7 linked regions of the Homo sapiens genome follow. The protein of the gene in region 1 purifies or fractionates together with the protein of each later gene. This does not show direct contact. Each region holds a gene or a part of one and is shown in the gene's direction. Other genes may lie near its edges.

Evidence for each region.
Region 2: the proteins of COL6A1 (region 1) and MMP3 purify together in Homo sapiens (co-immunoprecipitation; one large-scale study listed by IntAct). This does not show direct contact.
Region 3: the proteins of COL6A1 (region 1) and HHIPL1 purify together in Homo sapiens (co-immunoprecipitation; one large-scale study listed by IntAct). This does not show direct contact.
Region 4: the proteins of COL6A1 (region 1) and PRDX4 fractionate together in Homo sapiens (co-fractionation; one large-scale study listed by BioGRID). This does not show direct contact.
Region 5: the proteins of COL6A1 (region 1) and HMGCLL1 fractionate together in Homo sapiens (co-fractionation; one large-scale study listed by BioGRID). This does not show direct contact.
Region 6: the proteins of COL6A1 (region 1) and TMEM87A purify together in Homo sapiens (co-immunoprecipitation; one large-scale study listed by IntAct). This does not show direct contact.
Region 7: the proteins of COL6A1 (region 1) and LYZ purify together in Homo sapiens (co-immunoprecipitation; one large-scale study listed by IntAct). This does not show direct contact.

What each region holds. Positions count from the first base shown.
Region 1 is NC_000021.9:45,998,770-46,002,158, forward strand, and holds part of COL6A1 (collagen alpha-1(VI) chain precursor), read left to right. Parts: intron 1-127; coding exon 128-190; intron 191-383; coding exon 384-449; intron 450-887; coding exon 888-923; intron 924-1,561; coding exon 1,562-1,598; intron 1,599-1,989; coding exon 1,990-1,998; intron 1,999-2,483; coding exon 2,484-2,617; intron 2,618-3,191; coding exon 3,192-3,301; intron 3,302-3,389. UniProt on the Homo sapiens protein: Collagen VI acts as a cell-binding protein.
Region 2 is NC_000011.10:102,840,358-102,845,210, reverse strand, and holds the start of MMP3 (stromelysin-1 preproprotein), read left to right. Parts: upstream 1-1,601; 5' UTR 1,602-1,664; coding exon 1,665-1,769; intron 1,770-2,294; coding exon 2,295-2,539; intron 2,540-2,631; coding exon 2,632-2,780; intron 2,781-2,931; coding exon 2,932-3,057; intron 3,058-4,617; coding exon 4,618-4,782; intron 4,783-4,853. UniProt on the Homo sapiens protein: Metalloproteinase with a rather broad substrate specificity that can degrade fibronectin, laminin, gelatins of type I, III, IV, and V; collagens III, IV, X, and IX, and cartilage proteoglycans.
Region 3 is NC_000014.9:99,647,818-99,651,908, forward strand, and holds part of HHIPL1 (HHIP-like protein 1 isoform a precursor), read left to right. Parts: intron 1-4,091.
Region 4 is NC_000023.11:23,680,777-23,684,867, forward strand, and holds part of PRDX4 (peroxiredoxin-4 precursor), read left to right. Parts: intron 1-1,619; coding exon 1,620-1,750; intron 1,751-2,894; coding exon 2,895-2,929; intron 2,930-4,091. UniProt on the Homo sapiens protein: Thiol-specific peroxidase that catalyzes the reduction of hydrogen peroxide and organic hydroperoxides to water and alcohols, respectively.
Region 5 is NC_000006.12:55,439,487-55,443,577, reverse strand, and holds part of HMGCLL1 (3-hydroxymethyl-3-methylglutaryl-CoA lyase, cytoplasmic), read left to right. Parts: intron 1-4,018; coding exon 4,019-4,091. UniProt on the Homo sapiens protein: Non-mitochondrial 3-hydroxy-3-methylglutaryl-CoA lyase that catalyzes a cation-dependent cleavage of (S)-3-hydroxy-3-methylglutaryl-CoA into acetyl-CoA and acetoacetate, a key step in ketogenesis, the products of which support energy production in nonhepatic animal tissues.
Region 6 is NC_000015.10:42,235,138-42,239,228, reverse strand, and holds part of TMEM87A (transmembrane protein 87A isoform 1 precursor), read left to right. Parts: intron 1-1,613; coding exon 1,614-1,797; intron 1,798-2,809; coding exon 2,810-2,909; intron 2,910-4,091. UniProt on the Homo sapiens protein: Potential monoatomic ion channel gated by mechanical force, implicated in normal touch sensitivity through the generation of mechanically activated currents.
Region 7 is NC_000012.12:69,346,787-69,351,619, forward strand, and holds the start of LYZ (lysozyme C precursor), read left to right. Parts: upstream 1-1,594; 5' UTR 1,595-1,622; coding exon 1,623-1,758; intron 1,759-3,321; coding exon 3,322-3,486; intron 3,487-4,833. UniProt on the Homo sapiens protein: Lysozymes have primarily a bacteriolytic function; those in tissues and body fluids are associated with the monocyte-macrophage system and enhance the activity of immunoagents.

The sequences.
Region 1 (3,389 bases):
AATGTGTGTGGTGGGGGAAGGGAAGAGAAGAGTGCCTCTCTTATCTTTATTTTTTTCCTTTTAAAATTTCCACTTCCTAAAAACAAAATAAAACCCTTGTTAACCAAGTGCTCTCCCGTCACTGCAGGGCACGAAGGGCTACCCCGGCCTCAAGGGGGACGAGGGAGAAGCCGGGGACCCCGGAGACGATGTAAGTGTGGATGGGAGGCAGGGCCAGCCCCAAGTCCACCTGAGCCAGAGGGCTGGGCCCTTGAAGGGCAGTGGACCAGGACCCGCTTGGGGAGGCCTCATGGGCCCCGGCTGCTGGATGCTCTGTGGACGGGGCCAGCGCGCAGATGCCCGGGTGGTGCACGGTCTGTTGACACAACGCTGTTCCCTTCTAGAACAACGACATTGCACCCCGAGGAGTCAAAGGAGCAAAGGGGTACCGGGGTCCCGAGGGCCCCCAGGTGGGTGGATGTGGCTGGGTGAGGCCACGGTGGGCTGTGCCTGGGACGCCGGATGCTGGGGCTGGGGAATGCTGGAAGAGGCTGGGAGAGTGGGAGGCGGCGGGAGGGAATTTTGGGGAGCACGTCATCTGGGAGGCCCTGGGGGTGGGAGGTGCCGGTCACCAGGGCCAGGTGGTGGCCAGGGCAGCAGAGCCGAGCCCAGGGACACAGCGGGTCCTCAGGGTGGGGCCCACCTGGGATGGCCGCCTGGACCACCAGTGTGCGAAGCCCCAGCTGCCCTCACAGCACCGTCACTGGAGGACGAGGGGCTGGGTAGGGAGGGACCGGGCAGGGGTGGGCTTGATGAGGGGCAGGGCCCTGGGGGTGGGGGCTGTCTCAGCTCAGGAAGCACAGTGGGCTCCTCACCCTCAGAGCTCCTCTACTCCGTTTCTCGGACAGGGACCCCCAGGACACCAAGGACCGCCTGGGCCGGACGTAAGTGGGGCTCTGTGAACATTGCTGGGGGCGACCACTGTAGCTTCCATCCCTTGGGGTGTGGGTCCTGTCCATGGGTGCTCCTGTAGACGCTGCTCACGGGGGGGTGGGTTGTGGACAAAGAGCTGGTGCCAGGCCCTAGGGACCCGTGACGGCCATGGGAGGACCCGTGAGGATCATAGGGGGATGTGTGAGGACCATAGAGGGGACATGTGAGGATCATGGGGGACATGTGAGGATCATGGGGGGGACGTGTGAGGATCATGGGAGGACGTGAGGATCATGGAGGGGGACATGTGAGGATCATGGGGGACCCGTGAGGATCATGGGGGACCCGTGTGAGGATCATGGGGGGGGACGTGTGAGGATCATGGGGGGACCTGTACCCATGAGGACCATGAGGGGACCCGTGACGGCCACGGGGAGACCCATGACTGCGCTGTTTCTATGACCACGTCAGGGGTCCAGCCCAGTAGCAGGGGTGTAGTGGGCAGAGCCGGGCACACCTGCAAAGAACCTCCTGCCCAAACCCCGCCCTGTGGGGGCCCCAGGGAGGGTGACCTGGAGATCCAGCAGCCCACAGTCCCCGCTGGGAGGGGCTGTCTATGGCCCCAGTACCCTCGTCTCTCCCTCCCCAGGAATGCGAGATTTTGGACATCATCATGAAAATGTGCTGTGAGTATCTCTGAGAAGCCGTCCTCGTTAGGGAGAGCAGGGCCGCCAGCCTGGCCTGTTCCACTCCTAGAAGGGTGTCTCCACTGTTGGGGGCCTGGGTCTCTGGGTACATCCTTGAGGAGGCTCCTCAGCCAGCCCCTACCGGCCTCCAAAGCCCTCCCAGGCCCCCGGGTCCCCGCACAGGCTGAGAGTCCCCGGTGCGGTGCAGAGCTGCCACGTGGGGAGGGCGGCCGGGGAGGCGGGGAGGCGGGGCAGGAGGCCGGGGAAGGGGGGAGGCCGGGGAAGGAGGGCGGCCGGGGAGGCGGGGAGGCTGCCCCAAGAGTAAAAGCCTTTCTGACGTGCGCAGGACGCGGCCCTGACTGGTCTAACTGACTCTTTCTCTTCTCCTCAGCTTGCTGTGGTGAGACCCAGGCTCTAGCTCCTGAGAGAATGGATCCCGGGGGTCGGGGAGCGAGGCCTGGGTCCCACACATGTCACAGGACAGCACATGGCACTCTGGTCCCCGCCCGCAGCTCCCTGCACCTGCCCGCCCCCTCTGGGGCCTGCTCCAAGCCAGCAGGGTTCCCGGGTGTTGGGCTGGGCCCCGCCCTCTTTCACCCATAACTGAAATAACCAGGAGCAGGCTTGGGGGGGTCCCTGCTCCATCATTCTGGCCCACAGGCCCCACCCTAGCCTGGCTGAGCAACGCCAGCCCTGACCAGCCGCCGGACAGAGCAGCCTTTACGGGGCCATGGGAGGGGGTGGGCTTTTCTGGGGCTGAGACGGGGGGACCCCAACGTGTCAGGTGAGGATGTGGCAGCCAAGGAGGGGCCAGGGCGGTGGAGGGGAGGGGCCAGGGCACTGGAGGGGAGGGGCGTGCTCTGCTGACACCGCCCCCGCCTGCAGAATGCAAGTGCGGCCCCATCGACCTCCTGTTCGTGCTGGACAGCTCAGAGAGCATTGGCCTGCAGAACTTCGAGATTGCCAAGGACTTCGTCGTCAAGGTCATCGACCGGCTGAGCCGGGACGAGCTGGTCAAGGTGAGGCCTCGCCCCGCCCGGCTTTCTCAAGCCCAGGTGCACCCCGACCCTGCCGGCCGCCCCTGCCCGCGCCAGACCTCAGCCTCCCGAGGCCACCGCTGCATCCCTGTGACTTCCCTACTCATGACAAGGATGCCAGGCACGCGCCAGCCCGTCCAGGCCTCCAGCTCCACCTGGCGAGGCTGGCCCATTGTACACAGGCGCCCCAGATGAGGGAGGGTCTCCCCCTCTCCTTGAAGGGCGGTAGTCTGGGGTCCTGAGTGCTGGGTGTGGGCTTGTCCCTCGTGGACAGAACCCAGGAGGGCTTCATCCACCAAGGAAGATTGCTTTGCAGGGTACCCAGGTCCCGGGGGCTGTGCCACCCTCTGGGCACCCGGAGCCAATCGCAGGGTACCCAGGTCCCGGGGGCTGTGCCACCCTCTGTGCACCCAGAGCCAATCGCAGGGGACCCAGGTCCTGAGGTCCTGGGGGCCATGCCACCCTCTGGGCACCCGCAGCCAATAGAGTCACCCTTGGGAAGCTTATGCGGACCTGGGGCAGCACTCGCGTCCTGACCCCGGTGCCGGTCCCACAGTTCGAGCCAGGGCAGTCGTACGCGGGTGTGGTGCAGTACAGCCACAGCCAGATGCAGGAGCACGTGAGCCTGCGCAGCCCCAGCATCCGGAACGTGCAGGAGCTCAAGGAGTGAGTGCCCCACGCGGCCAGGACCCTCCCACCCCTCGCCCCGACCGCTGTTCCCACGGCAGGTCGGCCCTGACCCCTGATCCCAGGT
Region 2 (4,853 bases), on another chromosome or scaffold:
ATCAAAGGAATGGAGAACCATAGAATACTAGTTTTAAAATGTCTTTAGGCCAGGTGCCGTGACCCATGTCTGTAATCCTAGCACTTTGAGAGGTTGAGGCAGGAGAATCACTTGAGCCCAGAGCTCGAAACCAGCCTGGGCAACATAGTGAAACCTCTGTCTCTATTTTTTAAATAAAATTTGAAAAAGTCTTTAGACATAATCTAGTCTAAAAATGAAGGCTTAAATGTGATGTATAGCCCCCTGCCAAGTGGCTATCAACTGTGTGGGCATCTTCAGTCATAGGGATCTTATTGCCACAGAGAAATCCCTTTAAACTTATTGGGTAAAATCTCTCCAATGTTTATTAAGAAACACACAAAAAATAAAGCAAAGAAGAAAATGCAAAAGAGTTATAAATGAGAGGAAGCAAAATGGGCACTTATTAAAGGTCTAATAAATGCACATTTGTATCCATCATTCTACTGAGTTCTTACTCCCAAGATGTTCTTCCCTTTAGCAAACAAATAAGCAAGTCAGCAAAGAAAGAAAGAACAAACAAAATGTGGTGATCAGGGAAGCATTGAGGAGATGGATGGTGGCAGGTGGCAAGAGGACTATAAAAGTTTTACAAAATGTCTTCCTCTGAATATGTTTAGAGTCTTGCATTCAAGCATTTATTATACACCAATAATGTGAGCAACACTTTACTTGACAAAGAAACAGAAAAGAAAGGAAAGGAAGAAAACAGAAGAGCATGAAGAGAAAATTTAGGATGGATTCTGTTCTTCAACTTCAAAGCATCTGCTAATTTGAATTTAGGGAGGAGGGGAAAAGGTTGAAAGAGAATAAGACATGTGTAGAAGACAAGGACAGAGAGAATTTCAGTCCGGTAAGCAATGTAATTCATTTCAATTCTACAACTATTTATGGAGCAGCTACGTGGGCCCATCACCCATTAATAAATTGGTTACAGAATTAAAACCAACCCAAAGGGAATATACTTCCTTCTTTTTCACAGACCCTCTTTGTTCTATTCTGCCCATGAGGTTTTCCTCCTCAAGAACCAGCAAATCCAACGACAGTCAATAGCAGGCATTACAAATCAGATTCAGAAAAATAAATCACCCCTTCTAAATTTCTTCTAGATATTATCTTTTATGTTTTGAGTATAATTGTATATAGTATAGACTATAGCTATGTATGTACACTTTCCACTTACATCTTTTATTTGCTTTTATAATGTGTTTCTTAAAATAAAACTGCTTTTAGAAGTTCTGCACAATTCTGATTTTTACCAAGTCAACCTACTTCTTCTCTCAAAAGGACAAACATAAATTGTCTAGTGAATTCCAGTCAATTTTTCCAGAAGAAAAAAAATGCTCCAGTTTTCTCCTCTACCAAGACAGGAAGCACTTCCTGGAGATTAATCACTGTGTTGCCTTGCAAAATTGGGAAGGTTGAGAGAAATTAGTAAAGTAGGTTGTATCATCCTACTTTGAATTTGGAATGTTTGGAAATGGTCCTGCTGCCATTTGGATGAAAGCAAGGATGAGTCAAGCTGCGGGTGATCCAAACAAACACTGTCACTCTTTAAAAGCTGCGCTCCCGAGGTTGGACCTACAAGGAGGCAGGCAAGACAGCAAGGCATAGAGACAACATAGAGCTAAGTAAAGCCAGTGGAAATGAAGAGTCTTCCAATCCTACTGTTGCTGTGCGTGGCAGTTTGCTCAGCCTATCCATTGGATGGAGCTGCAAGGGGTGAGGACACCAGCATGAACCTTGTTCAGGTAATTAACACTAACTGACCTGGCCAGGTGGGGAGCTTCCAGAGTAAGCTGAAACCATTCTGTGTGTCTTAAAACCCACATAGAATGCTTGAGCTTACTGTGTAGGAACAGTTCAAGAATAGAGAGTTATAGAGTGTTGGAAGTGGAAAAGGTCTCATTATCACACCATTTGGGCTTCTCCTCTTATGTAGGAAGAAACAAAGGCCAGAAATATTAGGTGTTTTCTTAAGATCACACAACACCATAGCAGTAGCAGCACTGGGGCTTAAGGCACATGAGTAACAAGTGGAGAGTGGATGAACCATATCTTGCTTTGGAACAGCTTCAGTTTTTTTTTTAATGCAACGTAATTTTAGCTAAATATTTGTGTTGCTAGTATCATATTATAAAATTTGCCATTATTTCAGCAAGCTAGAGAAATACTCCAAATAGATTAAGAAGTGAGCAACTGCAAAAACTTACTATAAATAGATAGCTATAGTAAAAATTGTAAGAGTGACCTAAAAACTATACTTATTCTGTTAGAAATATCTAGAAAACTACTACGACCTCAAAAAAGATGTGAAACAGTTTGTTAGGAGAAAGGACAGTGGTCCTGTTGTTAAAAAAATCCGAGAAATGCAGAAGTTCCTTGGATTGGAGGTGACGGGGAAGCTGGACTCCGACACTCTGGAGGTGATGCGCAAGCCCAGGTGTGGAGTTCCTGATGTTGGTCACTTCAGAACCTTTCCTGGCATCCCGAAGTGGAGGAAAACCCACCTTACATACAGGTAATGGTTCAGAGGGGTTTTCACATAAGATTGGAATTTTATAAACTATATCATAGGAGAAAATAGCATCTGCTTCAATTTTTCTCCTACAGGATTGTGAATTATACACCAGATTTGCCAAAAGATGCTGTTGATTCTGCTGTTGAGAAAGCTCTGAAAGTCTGGGAAGAGGTGACTCCACTCACATTCTCCAGGCTGTATGAAGGAGAGGCTGATATAATGATCTCTTTTGCAGTTAGAGGTAAAAAAAAAAAAAAAAAAAAAAAAGCAAAACAAAACAAAACAAAAAACACATGAAATGTATCCATTCATCTATCTGGTGTTGTTGTACTGGAAAAGGCTCAAAAGGGATCCTTGTTACATATCTTTCCAATAAATTTTTTTCCTACTAGAACATGGAGACTTTTACCCTTTTGATGGACCTGGAAATGTTTTGGCCCATGCCTATGCCCCTGGGCCAGGGATTAATGGAGATGCCCACTTTGATGATGATGAACAATGGACAAAGGATACAACAGGTTAGTTACACATCTCTCAGAATGATTTTGGCATTAATTTTTTTATATGTAGAAATCTGTTAATAACCAAGAATGCTCAAGAAATGAGATGTTCTGGATTTTCCAGTGGATCAGAGATCAGCAGAATATATTTTTGTTTTAATTATTATTGAAAATATTTTCAGATGCTTTAACAGTTTTCCTATATTGGTAAGCACAATATAGGAAATATCATTAAGTATTTCTTTAATGACTGGATCTTTGTGATCTAGGGGTAACCATTATTAAGAAAAATTTCTCATATCAAAATACAAACATTCAAGGGATAGTATATTGCACTGAATCTACATTAAAATGTGCTCTGGATGTTACTTATGTAATTTCCTCCATTTACTTCTTTACTCTTCAAACCAGAAATAAGAATTAAATTTCAGAAACTGAGATTCTCTTTTTTTTTTTTTTCTGGCTGAGGCATTATTTTAGTACTTTTAGGTTAAAAGAATTTTTATGGGCTTGTTCTGAAGGAAAAGACTAACTCCCAAATACAACGTTCAAACTGTTTAGGTAGAAGAATGTTTCTCAGTTCATAACTGTATGTTTTGGGGAATGACATCCAAAGTTTTCAAAAAAATCAGCTAAAACAATTAACACTACTTCTAAAAAAATAGGAAAACAATTAATACTATGTCTGAGGTTTAACTGGGATTTATAATGAAAATGTAAACCTCTGTAGGACGTACAAATGTGAGTTTAGTCCTGGATAGAATTCTTGATTGGTTGAGTTAACGAATTCTTGTAAAGAAACCTTCCTGCAAACTCTCAAATGAGATTGTTCCTAGCATCACAAGTTACACAAGTAATACTAGCAAAAGTAAGGTAGATTTACTTACTATATTGATCATAATTACCCAATGCCTCCCAATTTTAGCATTATGGGTGTTTTTAAAAATATGAAGGAAAAAATTTTGAATAAAGCCAGTGTTTATGTATTCTAAATCTGTTGTGTGACAAATGCTAGACATGATTGGGCATACTGTGTTTTAAACCAATTTTGCAAATCCTATGACATCTATCATTATTCATGTTTTTAGTCTCAATATGTACTTCATGATGATGAGGCTGAGACATTATCAATTAACATGAATATAGTTTCCTTTAACTGAGACTGCAAATGGCAAATGTAAATATATTAAAACAGTGTTTAGCTTTGCATTGACAAATGAAGGTAAATATCTGATATGCTAAGCAAGTGGGTTCATTCCATTCCTGAGTACAAGAAAAGGGATCTGGTTCTTCTGGAGTTAATATGCTTGTGAGGCTGGGGGTGGGTTTGGGGCCATGGGGGGCAAGTGGATGTAACTGGGAAATCAATCTCAAAGATTGATTACAGGTATGAGTTTTAAAATACACTTAGCTTTCCATTAAGTGTGTAATTAGTCAATTGTTCAATTAACCAACAAACAAGGTGTAAAAAGCCCTGTGTGGTTCCAAGAAGTAAAAACCAATACAATGCACAGCAGACCTGTGTAATGCACATGTATTTAAAAAATAAGTAACTATTGTTCTCAATTTCTTAAATAGGGACCAATTTATTTCTCGTTGCTGCTCATGAAATTGGCCACTCCCTGGGTCTCTTTCACTCAGCCAACACTGAAGCTTTGATGTACCCACTCTATCACTCACTCACAGACCTGACTCGGTTCCGCCTGTCTCAAGATGATATAAATGGCATTCAGTCCCTCTATGGTGAGTGACACTGGGAAAATCAGCCATTGTAGTTTTGCAATGATGGTCTTCAGAAGAGCTTTCAAATGCTA
Region 3 (4,091 bases), on another chromosome or scaffold:
GGATGGGAGACTCTTTCCTGAGGCTTTGCTTGTCCAGTAAGTGCCTGTGTCCTCTGGAGGAGAGAGGACAGCCATGGCACGTGGCATCCCCAGTGCATCTGGTGTGAGCTTCCACATCGCTAACCTCCCCTGTGACTGGGGTTGCCTCTCTAAGCCACTAAAATCATCAAAGCATGGTTTCTGATGGAGATCTCCATGAAATGTATTCTATGGGCTCATGTATTCAGCAGGCTCTTCCTGAGCCTGTTAGGAGGCAGCCCTGTGCTGGATGCTGGGCCCAAAAACAGTTGGCAAGTCACAGGCCCAGTCTCAAAAATCCCCTTCATCACTTCAGGAGACTGACACACACAGGAAGGTGCCAGAAATTCCTCAAGGAGTGTAGGAACAAGGCCACATACCTCAGGGAAGGCTTCCTGAATGTTGGTTGCATGTTGATAGCTCATTATTTACTGAACAAACACATACATCTTCTCCATTTGTTCCTCCCAACAACTCTATGAGGTTGGAATTCCTTTCCCCTTCCACAGATGAGGACATAGGCACAGAGAGGTTAAGGAGCTTGCCCACGGTTAAGAGCAGTAAGAGGTTAAGGAGCATTCCCCATGGGGAATGTGTGCGCTGGCTCCAAAGCCATTCTCCTAACCGCTTTGCCACACTGCCTCCCTCCTTGAAGCCCCACTGTGTCCCACAGTCCGTGGAGTGGACAGACATGCAAAGAGATAATGAAGTCCTAGCCAAGCTGACTGGCTGGAGCGCCCCTGGCGACGGAGCAGTGACTGCTGTAGAGAACTCACCCTGTAAGCTACAAGATTCAATGGAGTGAGTGTCGTGTCTGAGATATGGACAGAGTGCATTGGGAGCATCCATAAGGGCCAGGGATGGGACAGTCAGAGCCCTGGGAGCATGGAGGACAAGAGGAGACCTTTGAGTAGGCCTTGAGTCATGAATAGCAGTTTGCCAGATGAGGAAGTAGGTGAGAAGCAAATATCCGATGGACAGGACACTGTGCAAAGGCTTGCTCTTTCAAAAAATGAACGGTGGACATAAGAAACCTTCAGGACCCAGGGCCATGAGTCACGAGTGTCAGTGACATGGGGGTGGCAAACTCTGGGCAAGATGGGGGCCCTCCGCCCTGCACTGAATGGCCCGGGCGGCTGAAGCCTGCGATACTGGGCTGGTTTCCTATGGCCTTCCTGCCACCTGCCCCTAAACACACTGAGGCCAAGCTGCGGATCATCCTCTTGCCAGCAGCAATCACTATGTCTTCTTGTCACTTCCTAGCTCTGGACTACCCTGGTCTGGGCACCACATTTACGTCGTGTGTAAGTAAGAGTACATAGGCCACGAGGAAGCATCTGCTGTGTGATTGGGACGCACGGATGCCGAGGTCTTCGGCCTGGCTCCCTGAGGGAACTTTTGCTCCCTCTGTAGTTCTGGATTGGGCTTTGGTGAACGGAGGGCTCTCGTTGCCTTCCAGATGTCTGTTCTGCCCCTCACTGCGTCTCTGGAACCAAGATGGTGCCTGGTACAATCTCTGCTCAGTAAATTCTTGGTGAATGAAATGTTGCTGACTAATCTGGAAAGAACACCAGTCCAGGCATCATGAGGCTTGGGTGTGAGCCCTGGTTTGGCTACTTCTTGGCACGTGGCCTTCTTTAAGTCTCAGTTCCTCATCTATAAAATAGGAGTCAAGCCGTGTACGGTGGCTCATGCCTATAATCCCAGAACTTTGGCGGGCCAAGGCGGGAGGATTGCTTGAGCCCAGGAGTTCAAGACAAGCCTGGGAAGCATAGAGAGACCCTGTCTCTGCAAAAAATAAAAATGAAAATTAGCCGGGTGTGGTAGAGCACGTCTGTGGTTCCAGCTACTCTGGAGGCTGAGGTGGGGAGGATCGTTAGAGCCCAGGAGGTCAAGGCTACAGTGAGCTAGGATTGTGCCACTGCACTCTAGCCTGGATGACAGAGAGAGTCCCTGTCTCAAAAAATAAACAAATAAAATAAAATAGTGACAATGACCCTACCTTGCAGAGATGAAAGAAGGCACGTGTGCACACAGCCCCTCCCTGGTCCACGTGCAGCTGCCGGCTGACCCACAGGTGGTTCCCAGTGAACCATGGGAGGGACAGCACACACGGCGGCCTGAGGCCTGGCCATCTGGCCTGCTCACTGGCAGAGGGGAGCATGTAAGACATGGCACCCTGGTCTGTACCTGGGACAGTAACTGACCAGGACCCCAAGACATTCTGCCAAGTGGCCCTTGGCCAGTCAGGTGAGACCTAGCCTCACAGCAGTAGAGGGGCCAGGAGGACATGCTGTGGTATGACCAAAAGCCACAATCATGTCACAGGAGTGAGTGGGCCCTGGCCTGGGGCTTGAGAACACCCCGGGAGGCAGCCTGCCATCCCCCATCCCCAATCCTCCCCCAAACGTCCCAGAGGCCTCTTGCTGGAACCCAGCCTGGTCCTCCCTGTGAGGGGAGGGAGTGTGTGGCTGTCAGTACCTCCCCACTGCAGAAGGAGCATCCCCCGAAGCTCTGGGGGCCCAGAGCTGACTCAGACCCAGGCTTGGCCTGGTGGACTCACAGGTGGGGGAGGGTGTCAGTCACAGATAGAAAGAATGACCACGCCACAGGCCGGCGGCTCTAACAGGGAGGCCCGCAGACAGCCTGGAGCTGTAGGGGTAGGGTGCAGGGAGGGTGCTGTGGTGTGGGGACACTTAACTGGCGTTGGGGATGGGTAGTTGGGAGCTGGCCAGTAGAGCTGAGCAGACGTGGCTCAAACCCCAGCCCACTGGCATGTGACATGATACTTTGGGCTCCCTTCTGCTGTCTCTGCTTCCACCTCTGTGCAGTGGTAATAAGAACAGGCCTCCCTCCCATGGTTGCCTTGAGGAGGAAATGCAGATTCATGGGCACACTGCCCTGGTGCCTGGTCCACAATTTGCCCCAAACCCCAGGAGCTGCTGTGATTGGTTAGCATGGCTTCCCCCACGGCCATGGCCATGATTTAAGAATAAAGAGAATTCTGCCTGCCAGAGAAGAGCAGGGAAAGGGCATGCCTGCAAAGGGAACAGCCTGTGCTGAGGCTCAGAGGTGTGAAATGGCAGGGAGTATGTATTAGTCTCTTCTCTCATCGCTATAAAGAAATACCTGGCTGGGTGCAGTTGCTCACGCCTGTAATCTCAGCACTATGGGAGGCTGAAGCGGGAAGATGGCTTGAGCTCAGGAGTTCGAGAGCATCCTGGGCAACATGGCAAAACCCCATCTCTACAAAAAATACAAAAATTAGCTAGGCGTGGTGGCTCTCGCCTGTAGTCCCAGCTACTCAGGAGGCTGAGGCAGGAGCATCTCTTGAGCCCAGGAGGCAGACATTGCAGTGAGCTGAGATGGTGCCACTGTATTCCAGCCTTGGTGACAGAGAGAAAGAGAGACCCTGTCTCAAAAAAACTAACGGACAAACACAAAACAAAACAAAACAAAACTGGGTAATTTATAAAGAAAAGAGGTTTAATGGGCTCACAGTTCTGCAGGATGTATAGGAAGGATAGTGGCCTCTGTTTCTGGGGCGTTCTCAGGAAACTTACAATCATGGTGGAAAGTAAAGGGGAGGCGGCATGTCTCATGACGACAGCAGCAGCAAGAGAGAGATGGTGTGGGGGCACACTTTAAAACAACCAAATCTAATGAGAACTCACTCGCTCTACAGTACCAAGGGGAGATGGTACTAAACTAAACCATGCGTGAGAACTCCGCCCCGTGATCCAGTCACCTCCCACCAGGCTCCTCCTCCAACACTGGGGGTTACAATTCTACACGAGATTTGGGTAGGGACACAGATCCAAGCCATATCAGAGTATCAGGAGATGGAAGGTAGACAGGAGGCTGGAGAGGTGGGGAGAGGCAGGAGCTGATGATGGAGCTGTCCATGGGCAGAGCCAAGTTAGAGAGCACTTCGTGTTTTACTGTTTTTCAACAGATAGAGGCCGGAAGGTACTAGAGGGTGCGGACGGGGTGGTCAGGGAGGATCGGAGGTGAGCCTTGGGCAGGAACCCAAGTTAAGTGCAGCAGTGAGCTGTGCTGATGTAGGGGCGGAG
Region 4 (4,091 bases), on another chromosome or scaffold:
GCACATTCCTGTAGTCCCAGCCTACTCAAGAGGCTGAGATAAGAGGATCGCTAGAGCCTGGAAGTTCAAGGTTGCAATGATCTATGATCACACCACTGCACTCTCGCCTGGGTAACAAGAGTGAGACCCTGTCTCTAAAAAAATAATTAAAATTAAAAATAAAGAATACATAGCCGGGCGCAGTGGCTCACGCCTGTAATCCCAGCACTTTGGGAGGCCAAGGCAGGCGGATCACGAGGTCAGGAGATCGAGACCATCCTGGCTAACACGGTGAAACCCCATCTCTACTAAAAAAAATAGAAAAAATTAGCCGGGCGTGGTGGCGGGTGCCTGTAGTCCCAGCTACTCGGGAAGCTGAGGCAGGAGAATGGCGTGAACCCTGGGGGGCGGAGTCTGCAGTGAGCCGAGATCGCGCCACTGCACTTCAGCCTGGGCGACAGCGAGACTCCGTCTCAAAAAAAAATAAATAAATAAAGAATACATTTCAGTGGTTTTTGTGTATTCACAGAGTTGTGCAACCATCACCACAATTTTAGAATGTTTTCATGCTCCAAAAAACCCCATACCCATTAGCAGTCACTCCATGTTTCCCCTAACCCACTTCCCCTGGCTTTAGGCAACCACAAATCTACTTTATGTCTCTATAGTTGCCTATTCTGGACATTTCATATAAATGGAATCCTACAATATGTGCTTTTATGACTAGCCTCTTTCACGCAGCATAATGTTCTCAAGGTTCATTGTATTGTATCATGTATTGCTACCAGTAGTTTCCCCTCTTTTGTACTTGCTAAGTATTTAATGTTTTCTGCTTTCATAAAATCTGTTACTAAGTTAATTTCCAAGAATAAATATGCCCCAAAAACGACTGAGGCAGTTTTAAAATGTGGAATCATTTGAACATTAACCAAGTAAAATTATCTAACGTTAGCTATATTATTTGACCTGAGCCAGTAGTTTCTTTTTAAAATTTTTTTGTTAAGGCCGGGCATGGTGGCTCACGCCTGTAATCCCAGCACTTTGGGAGGCCGAGGCAGGTAGATTGCTCAAGTCCAGCAGTTTGAGACTAGCCTGGGCAACATGGCGAAACCCTGTTTGTACAAAAAATACAAAAATTAGCTGGGCGTGGTGGCACACACCTGTAGTCCCAGCTACTCAGTAGGCTGTGGCGAGAGGATCACTTGAGCCCAAGAGGTTGAGGCTGCAGTGAGCCGAGATCATGCCACTGCACTTCAGCCTGGGCAACAGAGTGAGATCCTGTTTGAAAACAAATAAAAAATTTATTATTTATTTTCAAAATAATACATGTACATATGCACATAGTTTTTAAAGGTCAGATTATCTTCAACAACTGTAAATACTCTGGTACATTTCTTAGCCAAAAACAAATTTTTAAAGCTGCAGTTTTACAGTGATAATTCCAAATTATACATTAGATTGAGGGAGGGATGTCCACAGGTGTGTGTACGTGTGTGTGTGTGTGTGTGTGTATACCATTGGAGTAGGTAGGTAGTGTGGTGTTTGTTCTGTATAGCATCCTTTTGTGTGGATGGTATAGGAATTCACAATACATAAATGAGAAGAAATGACCTCATCTCTACCATTCTTCTGTTTTACAGAGGTCTCTTCATTATTGATGACAAAGGAATCCTAAGACAAATTACTCTGAATGATCTTCCTGTGGGTAGATCAGTGGATGAGACACTACGTTTGGTTCAAGCATTCCAGTACACTGACAAACACGGAGAAGGTACCTCTCCCTTCTAACCTTTTGATTTTTTAGTTTGAAAGATAGCATAATTAGTTAGGTTTCTTATCGTAAAAGTAATCGATATTTCCAAAGTTTTCTGATTATTTACAAATTATTAGCAGATCCTTTTAACAGACCAAATTATAATTTACAGTGCTTTAACAAAATATCAGGCCAGGCATGGTGGCTCATGCCTGAAATCCCAGCATTTTGGGAGGCCAAGGTAGGAGGATTGCTTGAGCTCAGGAATTCAAGACCAGCCTGGGCAACCCAGTGAAACCTCACCTCTACTAAAAATCAAAAAAAAAAAAAAAAAAAAAAAAAAAAATATATATATATATATATATATATAAACTAATATATTCTGCTTACTAAATGAGATGCAAAAATATTCACTATTTGCATAGTCCTTTTTGATAAACTCAAAGACAAAAGTTTCTGCTACTGCAATTTTTAAAATTATGTTTCTGCAAGCTTAGAATGTGTCAATCTGGCAACATTTAGTGATGTAGTTTTCATTTGCCTCTTTGCATTATTGAATTTAGCCTTTTAAATAATCCTTGATCACTTCTCTGCCTTTCAGCTAAGATGAAGTATAGTAATGTAATCTCTGGGCTTATTCAGTATCACATTTGTAATCTACAAGTTCATCATTTTGCTAAAATAGAACACATTATATATTCCTTTTAAAAATGTCACTGAGTCAGGATGCATTCTAATGTCTCTTTTGACAAACAGTGAATCATGTCATCAGTACAAAGTACTGAAGTATACATGGCAAACAAGCGTACTGGAAGTTTATGTAAATTTGGAGGAATTTTTGCCATGCCCAGGCCTTTCAGCTCACCAGATTCCCAAACTTTCCAACTGTATTAGAGGGGCAATCAATTTGATTTCTTATATTTTAAATGTAACTAAACATAATTGGTAAAAATGAAAATAGATTAGCTGCCTGCTTATGAGCTCCATGACTAAAATTCCTTGGTGTCAACAGGCAGCTAATAGAAGTCATGTGCTCGGTGGTCTGGAAATGTTCTTATTAGTATATTCTATTCAGTTTCATATAGAAACAGAAAAAGTCAGTTGCTGAAGGTAACTGAATTCTGTTTTTAAAATGTCTTCTGCCTCTTTTTGTTTCTTTTAGTCTGCCCTGCTGGCTGGAAACCTGGTAGTGAAACAGTAAGTATATATATATGTTTTTATGTTGAGTTGATGGTTAGAGTTGAAAAAAATGCTGGCCGGGCGCAGTGGCTCACGCCTGTAATCCCAGCACTTTGGGAGGCTGAGGCGGGCAGATCACGAGGTCAGGAGATGGAGACCATCCTGGCTAACATGGTGAAATCCGTCTCTACTAAAATACAAAAAAAAAAAATTAGCCGGGCATGGTGGTGGGTGCCTGTAGTCCCAGCTACTCGGGAGGCTGAGGCAGGAGAATGGCATGAACCCGGGAGGTGGAGGTTGCAGTGAGCCGAGATCATGCCACTGCACTCCATGCTGGGCGACAGAGCAAGACTCCTTCTCAAAAAAAAAAAAAAAAAAATGCTAACCTTAGAATAATCTTCCCTTGTTACTAGAACTGTCTTGATTTTGTAAATGAAGTAAACATTGCTAAGCAGAAATCAGAGTACAGACATTCTTTGGCCTGTAGGAAGAGTAGCTGAAACCGGAGAAAGCAGAATATGGGGCGTGATGCTGTGAATTTTAAAGCCAGGTATACAGATAAATACACCGTTCGAAAAAAAAAAGTAGGGCAGAGTGGAGACTTGGTAGAATAATTCAGAGGTCTTATAGGTCATGTATCGAATTTCTTCCTGTATTGGGACAAAGAAAACAGTCACAAGCAAAACCTTTCTATGCATAGTAAGAGGTTTTGAGAAAATCTAGCTCAATTAATACTGAAGATAATGATTCTCTCCTTGTCATGAAGAAAGAAAAGATTGAAACACGTATATTCTTTCATTTAGGAGGCTGTATAATTTTTTTTTCTTTTTTGAGACGGAGTCTTGCTCTGTCGCCCAGACTGGAGTGCAGTGGCATGATCTGGGCTCACTGCAACCTCCGCCTCCAGGGTTCATGCAATTCTCATGCCTCAGCCCCCTAAGTAGCTGGGACTACAAGCCTGCACCACCACACCCAGCTAATTTTTGTATTTTTTGGTAGAGACAGGGTTTCACCATGTTGGCCAGGCTGGTCTCAAACTCCTGACCTCAAGCGATCCACCCACCTCAGCCTCCCAAAGTGCTGGGATTACAGGCATGAGGCACCGCTCCTGGCCCAACCAACCTATTTATGAAAGCATTTATTACCACAACCTAAAATTAGAATTAGGATATAACTCCAA
Region 5 (4,091 bases), on another chromosome or scaffold:
TTGCCCAAGCAATAGGTTACATTGGCCTTTAGTTACAAAATAGAAGAATGACTGTTGTTTCCTCACTCTTTCCCAAAAGGCCAATTAAGACTAAAAACTGTTGTTTTGACAAGGTAACAAGTTTCCCTTCTGGGACTCCTGTAGTTGCAGGGTCTTGATCCTCAGTAGCGAGAAAAGGAACATGATACGTGGATTCCAGATCCCAGAAGTGAATCATCCACATTTCGGGCTGAAGCCATTTCTCATCTATCCGGCTGATTCCTCTGACTTTTGCTACTTTATACTTTTTTGGGTATTTTTTCAAAACCTGCTTTTCTTGAAATGCTGACCAGTCCTGGTTAACTGTTTGCTGCCCCAGGGTACAAAGTTTCTCTAAAGTTAAAGCTGACCCATACCCCGGATTGATAAAGGGTGAGATAGATAAGAAACTCTACTTTAGGGATTTGAGAATCACTGGATAAGAGGAGATTCTAGGACAGAGATGATTCTGGTTTGATTAATTTAGGGAGAAGCTTAGACATTAGTCATTTGAAAAGGGCTCCAGGTGATTCCAATGGGTTGACAGGATTGAGAATAATGGAAATTTCTGACTCCTAAACTGATACATTCAGATCCACTGAATAGATCAGTTTTAACCTATAAGTAAAGAAATGCCCCTGCCTGTTTATATCATGGCAGACTCCCAGAGACGGGTCAACATCTTAATATTTGTCTTTTCCAAGTACTGAACAATGCCACAAATTTCACTTCTAAAGTATAATTCCCCATTCTTACTGCTTTGATTCATAGTAAATGAAAATTGTCCTAAAGGTACCAGTATTTTACTGCTGAATATGACTAAGCTTGTCAGATCATTATGTGAGAAATGTTGTGGTAATGGAAAGAAAGCAATAGAGACCTTCTCATGTTGGAGAGTATAAGAAGAAGAAATGGAGGTAGAGAAACAGTCTATCCTTTGTAAACTTTCCTTAGGTCCCAAAGAATTCTAAGGCTTTTTAAGGACTGTAGTTCTTCCTTTGTGAGATTTTGTAAGTATCCTTTTCAGTCTTGCAAAGGAAACTCTAGGCAAGTGGTTGAAAACCCACAGTCCCTTTGGCATGCCTAAAGGACACAGGAGCCAAGTGAGAGAGCTCCCAATGGCCAAATGTTGAACAGTTTGAGCAACAAAAGACATAAATTGGTATTACGTTATAACCCAAAGTGCAAAATAATTACCTATAATTAGCTATGAGTCCTCCCTAATATAAATACATGTTAGAATAAGTAAATAAATGAGAATGGACAAATTTTCCATACAGAAGAATTCAAAATTTTTGTGTAGATACTCCCCATTCTTTAAGTGTGAGCTACGCATAGTGACATTTTTCCAAAACGTACAATACAGAAAGACTGTGGGGAGACTTTATAGTGCAGATACCTGGCAGACACCACCTCAGCCAGACAAGAAAAGTTAATACCAGCCGTCATAATTTATATTGATATTATATATCCTTGATATAATGCTTTCAGGATGACACTTTACCTCTGTGGTCTTCTCCCAAAACTCTATAACTCCAGTCTTAACAGGAGAAAAACTTAGACAAACCCAAGTTGAAGGACAATGTACAAAATACATGACGAGCACTTTGGGAGGCTGAGGAGGGGGGATCACTTGAGGTTAGGAGTTTGAGGCCAGCCTGGCCAACATAGTGAAACCCTGTCTCTACTAAAAACACAAAAATTAGCCAGGTGTGATTGTGCGCACCTATAATCCCAGCTACTCAGGAGGCTGAGGCAAGAGAATCGCTTGAACCCAGGAAGCAGAGGTTGCAGTGGGCCGAGATAACACCACTGCACTCCAGCCTGGCTAACCGAGCAAGACTCCATCTCAAAAAAACAAAATAAAACAAAACAAAAACATGACTTATACTACTCAAAATAGTTCGGAGAAACTGTCACAGCCCATAGGAGGCTAAGGATACCTGACTACTAATGTGGTATACTGGTGAGCTCCCAGAACAGATAAAAGACACCAGTTTAAAAATGTCTTTAGAAATGTCATTTTAAAAGTCTAAAGAAATCTAAATATTGCATGGATTTTAATAAAAACTTGCCAACATGTGTTCTTTAGTTATGACAAATATACCATAATAAGATCTGACAAAGAAGCCAAACTTCAGTCAGATTTCTAAAACTTCTCCTAAGCCCACCTCTTCATTTCCTTGTAAAATCCAGTTTTAGCAATTCCTACTAAATTAGCTTAACAAGAACCCCTATAGTCAATATCCAAATGCCCGATCTGATTAGGTCTCTCCTCCTCTACCAACCCGAAGGTCATGTCTGATCACCCTATCCTGTCTTCTGCAAAAATCCTGGTAGGTCAGTTTAGCCAGAATTCCTTTCACTCCTGATGTTTTCTCCTAGTAATTTTTAATCCACTGACCCCCACCCCACTCCTTGGCTATAAATTCTCACTTGCCCATGCTGTATTTGGATTTCAGCACAGTCTCTCTCTCCTGCATTGCATGTGGTCCCTGTACCTACTGCAATGTTCCTAAATAAATTCATCCTTGCTGTGCTTTAATAAGTATCATTGAATAATGTTTTCTGTAACAGATGTTAACCATAGAGAAAACTGAGTGTGCAATATATAGGAATTCTGTTTTATCTTCACAAATTTTGTGAAAATCAAAAACTATTTTAAAATTAAAAGTTTATCAAAAAAGTAAAGAAGGGAAGGAAGGCAGGAAGGAAGGGAGAAAGAGATTCCCACATGAGCAGCAGCTGTCAGAATCTTGTCAAAATTTAAAATTCTCAAGTCGCAGCCCAGACCTTCTGAGTCAAAAACTCAGGGAATGTAGCAGTAACCTGTGATTGAGAAACATGATATAGTTGGTTGGAAAGAGCTCTGCTTCCAGGTGCTTCTCATTTTAAATGTGATCATGTTACTTTTTCTTTAATGCCCAAGAGTGAAGAATCGGATTAGGCTTTACTGTATCTTCTGATTACCGAATTGTTACCTTTCACAGAGGAATGGCATGCCTGCCTCTGTTCTTCTCATATTATTAACATTTGAACTCCGGGGCCCTTCTCAGACCCTGTTGTACTCATGTCTTCCATAACTTCTCCGGTACACAGAGAGCTCTTCCACCTCTGATATCCCCAAGTGCATAATCATGTACCAAATCTCATGTTTCCAGAGGCTATAAATCAAAGCAGAGTGTAGATTCCCTGGAGACAGAAGATTTCACCTACCAGATAGTGACCTTGGGTAAATTGTTTATTCCCTCTGTACCTGAGTTTTCTTTCTGAGAACTGGGGATGATACAAGAGTATCTACTTCATGGATTTTGGGGAGAATTGTGAATTAATACACATAATTTGTTAATAACAGCATCCAGCACTTAGTGAGGAACCAATAATGTAAGCTGGCGTTACTGCTGGTGGCAAGTGTTTTGTCTCTTAAATATTTCTTCCTTCTCCCAAAGTAGTGGAGTTTTGTGTGCAAAACAATGAATGTCTCAATAAAGATTTGGTGAGTTGAATGGGTAAAGTGAGCCCACAAAACCCTATTTCAAACCCAGTGACTTCTCTCTCCCCTGCCCTCACATACCAGTCATCTAAGGCATTTTGATGTTGAAGTAGAATGTTGAAAATATTTCATGTTGCTTATAAAATGCTTTTAGAATAAAGTTAGAGAATTGGATAATATGTGAAAATCTGGAGTAAATTAACCTTACTCTAAGCTTCACCACCTACAGTTGAGCTGTTACCAACGAACAACACCATTTTACTTTTGATCAAAGATTATTCTAGCTCCAGAGAGCCTTAGCAGAATTTCTGTTAGCCTCAAAGACGAGATTAGACATAAAAGAAATAAGCACCCTGGGGACCATTCTAGAGGCCACTGGGTAAGTGAATATATTTGAATAACCAGTTCAGATTTTGCTTATTTGCAGTTTACCATAGGTTAAATAGAAATGCAACAATTTACATGCCATAAACACACAAGCTTTAGGTGGTTTGGTTTGTTTTCCAGATGGGAATTAATGTGGTGGACTCCGCAGTATCCGGATTAGGTGGCTGCCCTTATGCAAAAGGTGCTTCTGGGA
Region 6 (4,091 bases), on another chromosome or scaffold:
TCTCTACTAAAAATACAAAAATTAGCTGGGCGTGGTGGTAGGCGCCTGTAGTCCCAGCTACTCGGGAGGCTAAAGCAGAATTGCTTGAACCCAGGAGACAGAGGCTTCTGTGAGCTGAGATCTTGCCACTGCACTCCAGCCTGGGCGACAGAGTGAAACTGTCTCAACAACAAAAAATTAACAAAATGATGAAGCTCCCTTCTCTTCATTTTGTGTGTGTATGTGTGTATGTGTGCACATACATGTATGTGTGCATACGTCTGTGTCTCAGAATATCCTTAATATATTTTCAATTTTCTTTGTTCATGATTATTCTCTTCTTCCTTTCCCTTTAATAGTTTTCCCGTTTTGTTGTGTTTCCTTGCCTCTAGATGTATCCTAATCATCATGCCATTTTTCTTCTTCAGTGTTGTCTTCATCTATATAATTTTAGATCGTGAGCTGAAATAGCTCCTTCTTTAAAAAAAAAAAAAAAAAAAGAGAGTCTCACTCTGTCTCCCAGGCTGGAGTGCAGTGGCATGATAATGGATAATGGCTCACTGCAGCCTTAAACTCCAGGCTGAAGCTACCCTCCACCTCAGCCTCCCAAGCAGCTAGGACAACAGGCGTGTGCCACTATGCCTGGCTAATTTTTATTTTATTTTATTATTTTTTATCTTGAAACGTAGTCTCACTCTGTCACCCAGACTGGAGTGGAATGGCACGATCTTGGCTCAATGCAACCTCCAGCTCCTGGGTTCAAGCGATTCTCCTGCCTCAGCCTCCTGAGTAGCTGGGACTACAGGTGCGCACCACCATGCCTGGCTAATTTTTGTATTTTTAGTAGAGACGGGGTTTCACCATGTTTTGGCCAGGCTGGTCTTGAACTCCTGACCTCAAGTAATCTGCCCATCTCTGCCTCCCAAATTGCTGGTATTACAGGCATGAGCCACCATGCCTGGCCTAATTTTTATTTTTTGTAGGGACAGAGTCTTGCTATGTTGCCTAGACTGGCCTTGAACTCATGACCTCAAGCAGTCCTCCTGCCTCGGCTTCCCAAAGCACTATTGCAGGTGTGAATTACCACGCCTGACCAGAAAAAGCTCTTTTACTATAGGAGAGCAGGCTGAGTGCTCTCTATATATACCATATATGTGTCTGTGTGTATAATAGAGAGCACCTTTTATATGGTATACATATGTGATACATACATACACACACACACACACACACACACACACACATATATATATATACATATGAGAGCATTCGCTCTTGAGGACAAGTTCATATGTAGTCTTCTCTGCTCAAGACAAGATAATGCTTTCATATTAGTTAATGTTAAGCTCCAAAGGAAGAATTATTTCTTAACTAGAAGGTAGAATATATTTTTGTAACTTGTTAAGACTGTATATTGATTCAGGACAGGCGCTGTGGCTTATGCCTGTAATCCCAACACTTTGGGAGGCAGAGATGGGAGGATTGCTTGAGTCCAGAAGTTCAAGACCATCCTAGGCAACATAGCAAATCCCCATCTCTTAAAAAAAAAAAAAAAGTATATATTGATTCTAAATCTACAGACTTGGCTCTTGGCCCTAATTCTCCTTTTTATCTTTTACCCAATTTGATAACAGTTTTTCATGGTGATGTGTATTGTATATGTCCTGTTTGGTGTTCTGTGGCTGGCATGGTCTGCCTGCTACTGGAGAGATCTCCTGAGAATTCAGTTTTGGATTGGTGCTGTCATCTTCCTGGGAATGCTTGAGAAAGCTGTCTTCTATGCGGAATTTCAGAATATCCGATACAAAGGAGAATCTGGTAAGTAACCAGAAAATCTTTGCCAGTTCGAGTGGTTGGAAGGTGAGATGTATGAAAATATTCCTAAGGTCAGCAGTCACTACATAGGCTTAACTTTTCAATTACTTAATTATTACAATATCTTAAGCAGAATCACTATGACTCTGACTTTTGTTTTTAATCTTATGAGTTCAGTGATGTAAGACTAATTTTACTGAAATATGCTCACAAAAGTCACAACAGTAGTGACCATTTTGGGAATGATTATTAACATCAAATCTCAATTTCTGTTGATTTCTAAGGCACCATTATACATCTAAGAAAAAAAGTAAAGCTGTCAATTTAATTGTAAAATGTCACTGATTGTAAGACACACCTTGATTTAAAAAACCTCAAAATGTGGTGGGAAAGTGCATCTAACTGATAAAATATAGTCATATCAAGAAAATAGGAGAGTGCTTATGGTTTAGTAAGGTGAACTGGTAATGACAGAAGTTGTTTTATACTGTAGTTTTTTGTGATTGCTTCAGTTTTTTCTTGTCAGACCATTTAATTTAGTCATAATTATTATTGTGAGATAAACTGATAAGATTTTCCCTGGTCTTTGAAAGGTCTTGAAAATAGTAGATCTGAAAAAAGTTAAGCTGTACATGCCAACAAGCGTGTACACGAGTGTGTTTTGTGCTTTTCTATGTGTAGCTGTATTTCACAGTTTTTAAAAATGGGGGAAATTGTCTCGATGCTACAAACTGTCCATATAGGGTGAGGTATTCTGTTAAAGTTTTAGTGAATTTGGGGCCAGGTCGGGGAGGGAGCTGAGTTGAGCGCACCCAGATTGCCATACATAGACATGAGTAAGATTGTGAGTGGCATCAGCTTGTATCCTGTAAAAACTGTGGAAGAGGTATTCTATTTTAGCAGGACTAATATCAATGCTTATTCTGAAGAGTGTAGAAAGCAGCAGTCTAGTATTGGCATCTGGCCTGTTGCCAAACCTAGATTATGGTGCCATTTCTTCCCTTCTTTTTCATAGTCCAGGGTGCTTTGATCCTTGCAGAGCTGCTTTCAGCAGTGAAACGCTCACTGGCTCGAACCCTGGTCATCATAGTCAGTCTGGGATATGGCATCGTCAAGTAAGTATTAACTTCCTGTATGGAAGAGCAAATTAAAATGCTGATTAAATTAAAACAGTATTGCATGTTCCCAATGTAGTAGTTCTGAAATAGTTGATAAAAGAAATAATTCTGAAACAAGAAAGGTATTTGAAATTTTGTAGCATTGTAAATGTTGGGAAAATGTGTTTCATTTTCCATACTTCCAAATATATTCCATACTTCCAAATATATTCCATACTTCCAAGTCCAAATGTATTCCATACTTCCAAATCCAAATGTATTCCATACTTCCGAATATATTTCCATACTTCCAAAATATTTTTTGCAAATTAGATTTTTTATGGGAAACGCATTCTTGCTGTAACTGTCTGAAAATATTTTTCTATCCAAAAAATTTTATTTTTATTGAGGAGTGTCTTCTATAGGCATTCTTTGAGGCATTGTTCTAGGCCCTGGGGATATGGCAAGTAAACAGAAGATTTTGAGCTTACATTTGTGGAGGGAGGGGACAAAGACAAAATTTAAGTGGGTAAAATATTTTAATATGTCAGTGGAAAGTGCAGTGGAGCAGGTAATGCAGGAGCTAGAGCTTGCAGTTGTACATAGGGTGATCAAGGAGGGCTTCACTTAATGACATTTAAGCAGAGACTTCAAGGAGGTGAGGGAGCTATATGTATACCCAAGGGAAGAGATGCTGAATTGAGATCAGATTCTATATATATTTTGAAGGTGGAACCAGTGGAATTTGCTGATGGATCAGATGTATGATAGGAAAGAGAAGAGGAATTAAGGATGATGCCAATTGTTTTGATCTGATAAAATGGCAGGATGGAATTGAAGATTTACTGAGTTCAGGAAGACCTTAGGTGAAATAAGTGTGGAGCAGGGGCAAGATTGGAGTTGAATTAGATAACTAAGTAGGGGAAACAAAGGGGAGAGGTTGGGGCAGAGATAAAAGTTTGGGAGTCATGAAGATAAAGATATTATTTAAAGTCATGAAGGCCAGGCGTGGTGGCTTACGCCATAATCCTCACACTTTGGGAGGCCAAGGCGGGCAGATTGCCTGAGGTCAGGAGTTCAAGACCAGCCTGGACAACACAGTGAAACCCTGTGTCTGCTAAAATACAAAAAATTAGCCGGCTGTGGTGGCATGCACCTGTAGTCCCAGCTACTTGGAAGGCTGAGGCAAGAGAATCGCTT
Region 7 (4,833 bases), on another chromosome or scaffold:
TTTTTTTTTTTTTGAGACAGAGTCTCACTCTGTTGCCCAGGCTGGAGTGCAGTGGTGTGATCTCAGTTCACCACAACCTCCGCCTCCCGGGTTCAAGTAATTCTCCTGCCTCAGCCTCCCAAGTAGCTGGAATTATAGGCGCACCACCACGCCCAGCTAATTTTGTATTTTTAGTAGAGACGGAGTTTCACCATGTTGGCCAGGCTGGTCTTGAACGCCTGACCTCAGGTGATCCACCCACCTCAGCCTCCCAAAGTGCTGGGATTACAGGCATGAGCCACTGCACCTGGCCCTATTTATTATTGAAGAATCAAAATTAGGCCTAGCCTGAAAAATGAGATTATTCTTGATTTTTGAACAGGGTCCTTGAACTGTCATTTAAAACCAAATCTGGTAATCTTTAGAGGCCACTGATGAAAAATAAGGGTAACTACAAAGTGATGACACTTTGTGTGGCTCAGAATCTGTCCTCTTAGGCAGATACAGAAGTGCAGTTCTTTTTGAGTTCTGGTAGCATTGTTTTAAAAGCTGTGCACAGCCTCCTGAGATTGCTATTTTCAAAGGTAGCATTTAGTTGGATATATGTTTGGGTAGGTTTTATTTTTAAAATGCTGTTGCTTTCTAATGACCCCTTATGTTCTAATATGGAAAGGGGAGGCAAAGTATTGTGAAAAGTAGTTGGTAAAGTAGGCCGGATGTGGTGGCTCACACCTGTAATCCCAGCACTTTGGAAGGCCGAGGCGGGCGGATCACGAGGTCAAGAGATCCAGACCATCCTGGCCACATGGTGAAACCCTGTCTCTACTAAAAATACAAAAATTAGCTGGGCATGGTGGTACATGCCTGTAGTCCCAGCTACCTGGGAGGCTGAGGCAGGAGAATTGCTTGAACCCGGGAGGCAGAGGTTGCAATGAACTGAGATTGCGCCACTGCACTCCAGCCTGGTGACAGAGTAAGACTCCATCTCAAAAAAAAAAAAAAAAAGGTAGTTGGTAAAGTTGTTCACATGAACCTTATTTATAATAGTAAAACACTGATTTATAATAATAAAAAATTTGCTATAGTAACAAAAAGAGTCTAGAGTAAGAAACTAGCTGAGCAACGTGGTGTCACACTATACACCCATTAAGACAACAGGCACATGTGTCATGTCCATTTTGTGGAAAAGATATGTAAAATAATTTTAAGTAAAAAAGATAAATATAAAAAAGTGAATGCATACAAAACAATTTCACAAAATTGAATGTTACTCAAAAATCACAGCTCATTTTAAGCTGCACAAAATAGTCATTTTTTTCTTTATAATTGCTCAAATTCATAATCAAACAGAAGAAAGTTCCTGTCTTGGAAGTAGTGCTATGCCCCAATTCTTCCAGAGCCAGTACTTTAAACAATTCCATTTCATTATTTTCCTGTAGACTAATTCTTAGGACATCAGCATATCTCTCTTCAAGCATTAAAAAAATCTCTTTAGAGTCAGTGGATCAATAGACAGTTCCTGTTTTCCACACAACTGAAAGGGTGGAGCCCCCAAACCACAAGGGGAAGAAGGAAGTTAAAAGATGTTAAATACTGGGGCCAGCTCACCCTGGTCAGCCTAGCACTCTGACCTAGCAGTCAACATGAAGGCTCTCATTGTTCTGGGGCTTGTCCTCCTTTCTGTTACGGTCCAGGGCAAGGTCTTTGAAAGGTGTGAGTTGGCCAGAACTCTGAAAAGATTGGGAATGGATGGCTACAGGGGAATCAGCCTAGCAAACTGTAAGTCTACTCTCCATAATTCCAGAGAATTAGCTACGTATGGAACAGACACTAGGAGAGAAGGAAGAAGAAGAAGGGGCTTTGAGTGAATAGATGTTTTATTTCTTTGTGGGTTTGTATACTTACAATGGCTAAAAACATCAGTTTGGTTCTTTATAACCAGAGATACCCGATAAAGGAATACGGGCATGGCAGGGGAAAATTCCATTCTAAGTAAAACAGGACCTGTTGTACTGTTCTAGTGCTAGGAAGTTTGCTGGGTGCCTGAGATTCAATGGCACATGTAAGCTGACTGAAAGATACATTTGAGGACCTGGCAGAGCTCTCTCAAGTCCTTGGTATGTGACTCCAGTTATTTCCCATTTTGAACTTGGGCTCTGAGAGCCTAGAGTGATGCAGTATTTTTCTTGTCTTCAAGTCCCCTGCCGTGATGTGGGATTTTTATTTTTATTTTTATTTTATTTTATTTTATTTTTAAAGACAGTCTCACTGTGTGGCCCAGGCTGGAGTGCAGTGGCATGATCTCAGCTCACTGCAACCTCTGCCTTCTGGGCTCAAGTGATTCTCGTGCTTCAGCCTTCTGAGTAGCTGTGACTACAGGTGTGTACCACCACACCCAGCTAATTTTTTGTATTTTCAGTACAGATGGGGTTTCACCATGTTGGCCAAGCTGGTCTTGAACTCCTGGCCTCAAATGATCTGCCCACCTCAGCCTCCCAAAGTGGTAGGATTACAGGTGTGAACCACTGCACCCAGCCGACATGGGATTTTTAACAGTGATGTTTTTAAAGAATATATTGAATTCCCTACACAAGAGCAGTAGGAACCTAGTTCCCTTCAGTCACTCTTTGTATAGGATCCCAGAAACTCAGCATGAAATGTTTTATTATTTTTATCTACTCTACTTGATTAACTATCTTTCATTTTCTCCCACACAATTCAAGATGTGCCATGAGGAAAAGTTATTTTATAGTTTAGTACATAGTTGTCGATGTAATAATCTCTGTAGTTTTCAGATTGAATTCAGACATTTCCCCTCAATAGCTATTTTTGAATGAATGAGTGAAGGGATGAAATCACGGAATAGTCTTGTTTTCAAGATTCTAACTTGATATCCAAATTCACCTTTAGATATTATAAGAAAATTTCTATCAGAAAATCCTTATGTTTTTCTGATTAAAAAAAGCATTTTTCCATCAGCCTATGTATCTGCTATGAATTTACAAAATCTACTCAACAGCTCTGTTGATTTTTCTGTTCTTGGCTGAATGTTGCCTGAGGGATGGGAGCACGGGAAGGGTAAAAGCAATGGAACAAACATGTATTTTAATATTTTAAAAGTATGTTATATTGTTCGTTGGTGTTACAAGATGATTTGCATTACAAAAGGATTCTCTTACAAGTCCCTTATCTTAACACTAAAGTGCTAAGATATTTTATAAGTAAATCTTTATACTTATAAAACAAATCAGTAAAATAGAAGTAGCTAAGTAGAACTGATTTTGCTATAGAGTATAAGTCACTTAGTGTTGCTGTTTATTACTAAAAATAAGTTCTTTTCAGGGATGTGTTTGGCCAAATGGGAGAGTGGTTACAACACACGAGCTACAAACTACAATGCTGGAGACAGAAGCACTGATTATGGGATATTTCAGATCAATAGCCGCTACTGGTGTAATGATGGCAAAACCCCAGGAGCAGTTAATGCCTGTCATTTATCCTGCAGTGGTAAGACAAGCTAATATTTGACCAATCTGGTTATACTTACAAGAATTGAGACTCAATACAAATGAAAAAGCCTTGAAAGGTTCATGAGGGACCTAGAAAAACTACATCTCAACTTCCAGAAAGTCATTATTATTTTCCTCATAATTCCCTGAGTAAGAAATTAAAGAAGTGGTATCATAAAAGGTTGATGTTTTTTAATATACAGAAGTTTCTGGAATGACCTATTAATTTACTGTCAATGGCCTTACTGATGCTTTGTCCAGAACAATGCCATTGCTCCTGCTTACTTTGGGGAGGTTTTGGGATAATTTAGTTGTATGGTCCTTTTTCAATTGTTTTACTTTTTTTTTTATGAAATGTTCTAAATGTATAGAAAATTAGAGACATTAGTATAATAAACAGCCATATGCCCATTATGCACTTTAAAAGTTGTTAACATTTTGCCATAGTTGCTTCTTCTATGCCTTTTTTTTTTTTTTTTTTTTTTTTTTTTTTTTGCTGAGAGTTTTTTGTTTGGTTTTGTTTTGTTTTATTTTGAGACAGGGTCTCCCTGTCCCCAGGCTGTAGTGCAGTGGCACCATCACAGCTCACTGCAGCCTCAAGTGATCATCCCACCACAGCCTCCCAAGTAGCTGGGACTACAGGTGTGCACCACCATGCCTGGCAAATTTTTGAAATTTTTAGTACAGGCAAATTCTGTGTTGCCCAGGCTGGTCTTGAACTCCTGAGTTCAAGCAATCTTCCCACCTCAGCCTCCTTAAGTGCTGGAATTACAGGCGTTAGCCACTGTACCTGGCTACTGCTGAGAGACTTTTAAGTGAATTAGGAACATGATGATATTCCATTTCTAAATTCTTTAGTTTACATCTTCAAAAAATACAGTTCCTGTAGAATTATTATTGTAAATAACAAATTAACTTAAGGATTTATTTATTTGGAGTGAAACAAATATTTTACTGAACTCATAAAAATAGAAATACCATGTGGAATCCTCAGTGTCAAAAATATTGCAGAAATCTTGCAAAGTTGATATTATTAAATTGTTAAATATTAAAATTCCCAATAAAGAACATTAATCTTATTTCTAAAATCCAGTTAATTAAAAAAATTTATATTATATAATAATATTTGGTCATTAAATAAAAATTAGAAAATACAAATAAGAAAAATAACACCCATAATCTTACTACCCAGAGGTTTATAACCATGGGTAAATTCTGGTATATATTCTTCCAGAATGTATATCAATCATGTGTATGAATGTTAAATTATATCATACACATATAAACCCACATACAAACATGTAAATACTGTGTGCTTTTGCAAAAATTAAATTGTATTATACAC